2 linked regions of the Homo sapiens genome follow. The protein of the gene in region 2 interacts with the protein of the main gene of each other region in a pairwise test. Each region holds a gene or a part of one and is shown on either strand. Other genes may lie near its edges.

Region 1 (4,515 bases), on a different chromosome or scaffold from region 2:
TTCTCCTGCCTCAGCCTCCCAAGTAGCTGGGACTACAGGTGTGCGCGACCATACCCAGCTAATTTTTCTATTTTCAGTAGAGACAGGGTTTCACCACGTTGGCCAGGATGGTCTCGATCTCTTGACCTCGTGATCCGCCCACCTCGGCCTCCCAGAGTGCTGGGATTACAGGCGTGAGCCACCGTGCCCAGTCTCTTTTTCTTCATAAACAGGATCTCGCTCTATCATGCAGGCTAGAGTGCCGTGGCATGATCGTAGCTCACTGCAGCCTCAAACTCAAGCGATCCTTCCACCTCAGCCTGCTGAGTAGCTGGGACTACACCCAGCTAATTTTTTTGACTTTTAATAGAAATAGGGTCTCACTATGTTGCCCAGGCTGGTCTTGAACTCCCGGCCTCAAGCAATCCTCCCACTTTGGCTTCCCAAAGTGCCGGGATCACAGGCAATAGCCACCGTGTCTGCCATGGTATGCAGATTCTTAGGGACATACATGTCCTCAAAAAAGTGTAGGCTGGGTGCGGTGGCTCACACCTGTAATCCCAGCACTTTGGGAGGCCGAGGTGAGTGCATTGTTTGAGCTCAGGAGTTCGAAACCCACCTGGGCAACATGGCGAAACCTCATCTCTACTAAATAAAAAAAATAGCAGGGCATGGTGGTGCACACCTGTGGTCCTAGCTACTTGGGAGGCTGAGGTGGAAGGATTGCTTGAGCCTGGGGGAGGGGTGGAAGTTGCGGTGAGCTGAGATTGCACCGCTGCACTTCAGCCTGGGTGACAGAGCAAGAAGACCCTGTTTCAAATAAAAAGGGGTGTGATGTGATTGCACCCTAGATGACCCATGGGCAAGCAGTTACACAGGTCCAAATCTGAGCACGAGTCGGATTTATGAGTGATCACCCAAACAGGGCCGTGCAGATGCATGCAATCCCCTGGATGGATACCCCGGGCGCTCAGTGTGCCTCCTGTATACACTCCTGGCCCCACAATCCTGTGTGTACACATGTGCATGCACACACACGTGCACACACACAGAGCCTGGGTGCCCGCAGGCCCGCATGCACACACAAGCCGTCTTGGTACCTTGGTGCTGGGGCCCTGGGGCCCTGGAGAGGCCGGGGGACTGCCAGCAGGAGCATCTCTGCTTCTAGGACTTGAGGGGGGTGACCCTGGGGACACACTGGGGGAGATGCAGAGGCTGAGGTGGGGTGGCTGTGCTGACTCCTGATCCCATGATCCCCAGTCCCATCACCAAGCAGAATGCTCACCTGGAGGTGGGGGATGAGGGGTCCCCGGGACTCCCACTAGGTGATGAGCTTTTCTCTCGGGCAAGCTTCCTAAGGATGGGGACAGGGGATGAGGCTAAGGCAGGAGCAGCCCTTGCTGATATCTGCCCACATCACCGCCCCTACACACACCCCGAGACTCACGCACTGAGACGCTTGGTGAGGCTGATCCGCCGTCGGATGCGTGGGGAGCTGGGGCAGGAGGCAGCTGGTGGCTCAATGACCCGGGAGAGCCGGTAGCTGAGGGGTCAATATGTGGATGAGGTGGTGGGGGCAGGAAATACAGGGGATGGAGAGATAAGAGTTGGAATCAGTTGGGAGGTGGGTTTGGGGTGTAAGGGGGAGCAGCCAGAGGTGGCACCCCACATGCCAGGGTCAGGGTGGTAAATGAGGGTCATTGAGCATCAAGGTCTTATCAGAGATGGGACAGGATGGCTGGTCAGGAGGTCACAAAGAGATTCACAGGGTGGCACTAAGGAATCAAATTGGGTCAGGATTAAAGTCAGGGTCAGGACTGGGTGCAGTGGCTCACGCCTGTAATCCTAGCACTTTGGGAGGCTGAGGCGAGAGGATTGCTTCGGGTCAAGAGTTCGAAACCAGCCTGGCCAATATAGTGAAACCCCGTCTCTACTAAAAATACAAAAAAAATTAGCCAGGTGTGGTAGCTCGCGCCTGTAATTGCGGCTACCGGGGAGGCTGAGGCAGTAGAATTGCTTGAACCTGGGAGGCGGGGGCTACAGTGAGCCGAGATCACTCCACTGCACTCCAGCCTGGGAAACAGAGCCAGACTCTGTCTCAAAAATAAATAAATAAATAAATAAATAAATAAATAAATAAATAAATAAAATAAAGTCAGGGTCAGACTGGGGTCAGGTCACCATTGGGGTCAATGGTTAGGGTCACAGTTATATAGAAAGAAAGGACACAGTTGTCATAGTCAAGCTGGACAGTCAAACATAAAAGTTGGAGTCAGTTACTCAGAACTGAGGGTCAAGGGTTGGGGTCAGAGAGTCAGATGAGGGGTCATGAATAAGGTCATGGGTCAGATAGGACCAAAGATGGGGAAGTCAACAGATGGGACAGTTGAGTTGAATGGCCAGCTGAATGCTAAAGTTGAGGTCAGAAAATCAGATGGGGTTGAAATTGAGGTCAGAGGTCAATTGTGACTATTTTTTTTTTTTTTTTTTTGAGACAGGGTCTCACTCTGTCACCTAGACTGGAACTGCAGTGGCGTGATTTTGGCTCACTCCAACCTCTGCCTCCCAGGCTCCAGCAATCCTCCCACCTCAGCCTCCCAAGTAGTTGGGACCAACGGCACTCAACACCACATTCAGCTAATTTTTTTTTTTTTTTTTTGAGACGGAGTCTCGCTCTGTTGCCCAGGCTGGAGTGCAGTGGCACCATCTCGGCTCCCTGCAAGCTCTGCCTCCCGGGTTCACGCCATTCTCCTGCCTCAGCCTCCCAAGTAGCTGGGACTACAGGCGCCTGCCACTACACCTGGCTAATTTTTTTTTTGTATTTTTAGTAGAGACGGGGTTTCACTCTGTTAGCCAGGCTGGTCTCAAACTCCTTACCTCATGTGATTCACCCGCCTCGGCCTCCCAAAGTGCTGGGATTACAGGTGTGAGCCACCGTGCCCAGCCACGTTCAGCTAATTTTTGTATTTTTTTGTAGATATGGGGTTTCGCCATGTTGCCCAGGCTGGTCTCGAAATCCTGGGCTCAAGTGATCCACCCACCTTGGCCTCCCAAGTGCTGGGATTACACGAGTAAACCACCAGGCCCAGTCTATTTGATTCGACTGGAGATACTGCAAGGTCACAGGTTGTAGTGGGGGATCAGGGCTCAAGAGGGGGTCTTGGGAGGAGCTGGAGGTGTGTATGGAGTGGGTGGAATCCAGTTGGTGACCCAGGCTCAGCTGGGGTGGGGCTGGGACAGGCTACAGGGTGGTCACCTCTGCTCCTCGGTGAGCTGGTTCTGGGCATGCAGGGCAGCCAGGATGGGCGGGTGGGGGCTCAGGGTGTAGCTCTGACAGCGCCTCTGCAGCTGCTGGATGCGGGCCAGGATCTCCCACTCCTGGAGGACGAGCCTCTAAGACCCTACCCCTGCCCCACCCCCACCCTCAGGCACCACCACACCCACTGTAGCCTCCACTCACCTTCCTCCTCTTCTCAAAGTTAATGAGATCCCCCTGGGGGCAAAGTGTGTCTGAATTGCAGCACCCAGGGTCAAGGGTCAAGGGTCAAGGTCAGGGGCTGGGATGTCAGGAGCCCCACTGTAGTAAGGGAGTGTGGGGTGGTGTCAGGAGTACAGGTAGGATCAAGGGTGGATATTGGGAGGCCCATTGTGCTGGGGGCAAGTGGAGCTGGGGTCAGGGGTCAAGGGTCAGGGGTCAGACCTCCAACATATCCGGCAGGGCTGTGTCCAGCATAACCAGGTCCGTAAGGAAGGTGCCAAGGTAGGGGACAGGGCCTGGGGGTGGTTTCTGCAGCCCCCAAAGCTCCAGTCACTTGGGGCCATTACTGACCCCATCACCATCCACAACCCTCCCTGAAGGTCCCACTTGTCCCCATCCCAAACTGTAATCACTCACTGAGGGCAGGCTGCCTGGGGTGTTGTCCTCTTCTTGGGATCCCTCAGTGGCCTCCTCCTGAGGGAAGAGAAAAACTGAGCCAGGTCTGGGGTCTCCTTGGACAATTCCTCAGGAACGATGCCTGCAGACCCATCATATATACCCTTCATGCTTTGAGTAATCAAAAGTCAGTGGTAGGCCAGGTGCGATGGCTCACGCCTGTAATCCCAGCACTTTGGGAGGCCAAGGCGAGCAGATCATGTGAGGTCAGGAGTTCCAGACCACCCTGGCCAATATGGTGAAACCCTGTCTCTACTAAAAATACAAAAATTAGCCGGGTATGGTGGCTCACACCTGTAGTCCCAGCTACTTGGGAGGCTGAGGCAGAAGGATAGCTTGAACCTGAGAAGCAGAGGCTGCACTCTAGAGGGAGTGTCGCTCTGTCACCCAGGCTGGAGTGCAGTGGCGCGATCTCGGCTCACTGCAGGCTCCGCCCCCCGGGGTTCACGCCATTCTCCTGCCTCAGCCTCTCAAGTAGCTGGGACTACAGGCGCCCCCCACCTCGCCCAGCTAATTTTTTGTATTTTTAGTAGAGACAGGGTTTCACTGTGTTAGCCAGGATGGTCTCGATCTCCTGACCTCGTGATCCGCCTGCCTGGGCC
Region 2 (4,890 bases):
ATTAATTTGCTGAGCTTTCTGGTTACTTTTTGTGGTTAATATTTTGATCATTAAATTTGAGTGTTTATGCTTTTTAAAAACATGCTTGTAATGCTATAAGCATCATTATGAATAAAGCTAGAGATAGTCCTATAAGTTTTGATACAGTGCATTTTTATTAGCATTTCGTTTCAAATATTTTGAAAATGTTTTTATAATTTCTTCTTTGACCTATTGACTATTTAAATACATACTTTTTCTCAACTATTTGAGAATTTAGTAGAGTTTTTTAAATTTCTAGATCAATTTCATTTATTTTGGACTATGTTGTAATTTTTATTCTTTGCAATGTTTTGAGATTCACTTTAGGATAAAGTCAATTTTTATAAATGTTCCAAGTTAACTTGAAGAGAATCTGACTTTTTCATTTGTTAGCTATGACATGTTGTATATGTCAATTGGATCAATTGAGTTTGTTTTGTTCAAGTCCCCTATATCCTTACTGAATATTTGCCTATTAATTTTTTCTTTATTTCTTTACTTATTTTTATTTCAATAGGTTTTGAGGGAACAGTAGGTGTTTGGTTGCATGAAAAAGTTTTCTTGTGTTGATTTCTGAGATTTTGGTGCATTCATCACCCGAGTAGTGTACACTGGACCCAATGTGTAGCCTTTTATCCACCTACCTCCCTTTCCCCTGAGTCCCCAAAATCCATTGTATCTTTCTTATGCCTTTACATTATCATATCTTAGCTCCCACTTGTTTTCTGCGCTGGTTTCATGTTTTTGCATTTGTGAATTGTGCTGCTATAAATATGCATGTGCAAGTATCTTTTTCGTATAATGACTTATTTTCCTCTGGATAGATACCCAGTAGTGACATTGCTGGATCAACTGGTAGTTCTACTTTTAGTTCTTTACAGAATCTCCACACTGTTTTACATAGTGTTTGTACTAGTTTAAGTTCCCACCAGCAGTGTAAAAGTGTACCCTTTTAACCACATCCATGCTAACATCTATTATTGTTTGTTTTTTTTTGATAATGACCATTCGTGCAGGAGTAAGGTGGTATTGCATGTGGTTTTGATTTGTATTTCCCTGATCATTACTGATGTTGAGTATTTTTTCATATTTTTGTTGGTCATTTGTGTATCTTCTTTTGAGAATTGTCTATTCAGGTCCTTAGCCCACTTTTTGATGGGATTGTTTGTTTTTTTCTTGCGGATTTCTTTCAGTCTCTTGTAGATTGTGGATATTAGTCTTTTGTCAAATGTATAGACTCTGGAGATTTTCTTCCACTTTGCGGGTTTTCTTCCACTCTATGGGATTGCAAAGATTTTCTCCCACTCTGTGGGTTGTTCATTTACTCTGCTGATTGTTTATTTTGATGTGCAGAAACTTTTTAGTTTAATTAAGTCCCAAGTATTTATCTTTGTTTTTGTTGCATTTGCTTTTGGGTTCTTGCTTATGAAGTCTTTGCCTAAGCCAATGTCTAGAAGGATTTTTCCAGTGTTATCTTCTATAATTTTTATGTTTTCAGATCTTAGATTTAAGTCCTTTATCCATCTTGAGTTTGATTTTTGTATAAGGTGAGACATGAGGATGCAGTTTCATTCTTCTACGTGTGGCTTGCCAATTATCCTAACACCATTTGTTGAGTAGGGTGTCCTTTCCCCACTTTATGTTTTTGTTTGCTTTGTCAAAGATCTCTTGGCTGTTAGTATTTGGCTTTATTTCTGGGTTCTCTATTCTATTCCATTTATCTATATGCCTATATACCAGTACCATGCTGTTTTGGTGACTACAGCCTTATAGTATAGTTTCAATGTAACGTGATGCCTCCAGATTTCTTCTTTATGCTTAGTCTTTCTTTGGCTATGTGCTCTCCTTTTTGCTTCCATATGAATTTTAGGATTGTTTTTTCTAGTTCTGTGAAGAATGACGGTGGTGTTTTGATGGAAATTGCATTTATAGATTGCTTTTGGCAGCATGGTCATTTTCACAGTATTGATTCTACCCATCCACGAGCATGGGATGTGTTTTCATTTGTTTGTGTCGTCTATGATTTCTTTGAACAGTGTTCTGTAGTTTTCCTTGTAGAGGTCTTTCACTTCCTTGGTTTGGTATATTCTTAAGTATTTTATTTATTTATTTAGCAGCTATTGTAAAACAGGTTATCTTATTGATTTGATTATCAGCTTGGTCGCTGTTGGTATATAGCAGAGCTACTGATTCGTGTATATAAACTTTGTATCCTGTAATTTGCTGAATTCATTTATCTAGGAGCTTTTTGGAAGAGTCTTTAGGGTTTTCTAGGTATACAATTATATCATCAGGAAACTGCATCAGTTTTACTTCCTCTTCACCAGTTTGAATGTCCTTTATTTCTTTCTCTTGTCTGATTGTTCTGCCTAGGACTTCCAGTACTATGTTGAATAGGAGGGATAAGAGTGGCATCCTTGTCATGTTCATGTTCTCAGGGGAAATGCTTTCAACTTTTCCCCATTCAGTGCTACATCGGCTGTGAGTTTGTAATAGATAGCTTTTATTACAGTAAGGCAGGTCCCTTCTATGCCAATTTTTCTGAGGGTTTTAATCACAAAGGGATGCTGGATTTTGTCAAATGCTTTTTCTGCATCTATTGAGATTATCATGTTATTTTTGTTTTAAATTCTGTTTTTGTTATGTCCTTTCCTGGATTTGGTATTAGGGTTATACTGGCTTCAAATAATGATTTAGACAGGATTTCCTCTTTCTGTCTCTTGTGTACTAGTGTCAATAGGATTGTTACCAGTTCTTTCAATTGCTGAGAGAGACACATTAAAATATCTCACTAAACTTTTGGATTTTATTTTGTCAACTTTTAAAATTTAAACTGAGACTGTATTTTTAGTACATAAGAATTAATTAGTATAATGTCTTCCTTTATTATTATAAAATATTCCCCTTTTACTCAAATAATGCTCTATTTTTACTTACTGTCTACTTTGATATTTAAACTATAGCAGCTTTCTTCATGTGTAAATTTCCATTCAAATTTCACTTTCTATATCTTTACATGTAAGGTACTGCAACTGCAGGTGATTTTTGTAAAATCTGGTTGAACAGTCTTTGTCTTTTAAAGTTGGAGACTGTAATGCATTTATATTGACTGTGGTCAGTTGAATTATTCTTTTAAAATTCTGTGTTTTCTCTCCACTCTTGCCATGCTTCAATGTGAGTTGAGCATATGTCCTGCCTCATTGACTTTAGGTTTCTCCATGTGTCATTTGGGATATAGATAAAATAATTCCTGCCTCCTGTGCATCTGCTCTATATTATGGGAATATCATTTCCCAGATAAGAAGGGCTCTCTTAGCCTGAGTCCCAAAATAAGAGGATAAGAGGAATACACCAGAACCCACCTGACAGCCTGGAGCAGAGCTGCCAAAAATCTACTCCTTAGCTGCTAAAAAGCAGTCTAGCAACAAAACAAAGCAAAACAAAACAAAAAATATTTGCAAGCCACAAGGGCCTTTAGGCTGTATTAATATAAGTGTAACCTAATGAAAGCCAATAAATATAGAAAATAGTTCCAGAACTGTTGTATTGCTATACAAAATGTAAAATATGAGTCATTAGCTTCTGGGTGGGGAAAATTCTTACAGGTGACTGAAAAATAAATGGTAACCCACGTTATACAGTGTCATACCATTTGGTAAGATTACCACTTGTGATAACTTGAAAATCAGGGAAGTTACTTAATAAACATAACTTTGCTCAATTGCTGGCAAGTCAGAATGTTATTAGCTTTAGTTGATTGTTTTCGCTGCATTTCTTAAGTTATTTTAAGGTAGAAATGAGCTAAAAAAAATTGGCATGTTTACCAGTAGGAATGAAAAAAATAAAATAAGAGAGATAATCCAGACATGTTTTATCTCATAGGGTTAAAATGTGACAAGTTACTCATCTCTGTTTAACAGCTACTAGTGGGATCAGTGAGATCTAGTCAGACTAGAGTGAAGAACCTGTCTTTGCTGTCTTTGGGATCAGATAGACTTGATAGATTTTTTACACCCCAGCTCAGCCACTTATTAACCATATGATGTGTTGTAACAGTTTAAAAAGTTGGTTTCTGCCCTGATTACAAACAATTGCAAAATGTCAACAGCTTAAAATAATGAAGGTTTTTTTTCTTAGTTATGCCAGGTATCCAACATGAGTGAGCTGGGAGGTCTATTTATTATTCAGAGTCCTGGTAACTCAGGATTCTGGGGACTGATAATCTGGTAGGGCTTTATGGGATCACTAAATTTTGAGTAGGAATGTTAGTACCAGCTATAGGAACATAGAATCCACTGTGCTAATTTATGTATATAATTTATCTTTATATTTTAGTTAATACTTATTCAACCCTGGGTAATTTTGTTGATCATTCTTTAAACTCTTCTAATACTTCTAATGGTGATGTAGGCACCAGGAGCTGTAGTAGAAACTAAAGGAATGATAAGTGAGACAGACACGGTCCCTGGCCTCAGTCAGTTTATGATTTCTAGAGATCCATTACAACAGCATGAACCACAGCATGGGTAACTGCCACCAAAGACTTATGGAGTGTCAAACCTGCTCTGGAATACTTGGCTAGAGGGAGACTTATTTACCCATAATGGTGGTGTTTGCTTTTCATTTTCTTTTGATAGATTATTATTTTTTAATTTTATGACAACTCCATCTCTTCAACTTATTCTTCAGTGAAAGCTCTGGACTATAATAACAACTAACATTTATAGAGCTTTAAACATGTGCCCAGCATGTGCCTCTTCTAGATGATCTCACTTAACCCTAACAAAGAGGTTTTGAGGTAGGTATTAATATCTTATGTTGAGGAAATTGGGGAAAAAAAAAAGTCAAAAAAATTAACCAAGTTTGCAA

The links. Proteins that work in one complex are often made in the same cells at the same time.
Region 1: the proteins of RIT2 (region 2) and RGL3 interact in a two-hybrid assay, tested with the Homo sapiens proteins (one large-scale study listed by BioGRID and IntAct).

The regions. Positions count from the first base shown.
Region 1 is NC_000019.10:11,398,776-11,403,290, forward strand, and holds part of RGL3 (ral guanine nucleotide dissociation stimulator-like 3), read right to left. Parts: intron 3,932-4,515; coding exon 3,875-3,931; intron 3,767-3,874; coding exon 3,680-3,766; intron 3,473-3,679; coding exon 3,440-3,472; intron 3,358-3,439; coding exon 3,236-3,357; intron 1,523-3,235; coding exon 1,427-1,522; intron 1,334-1,426; coding exon 1,265-1,333; intron 1,195-1,264; coding exon of another isoform or gene 1,177-1,194; coding exon 1,080-1,176; intron 1-1,079.
Region 2 is NC_000018.10:42,744,548-42,749,437, reverse strand, and holds part of RIT2 (GTP-binding protein Rit2), read left to right. Parts: intron 1-4,890.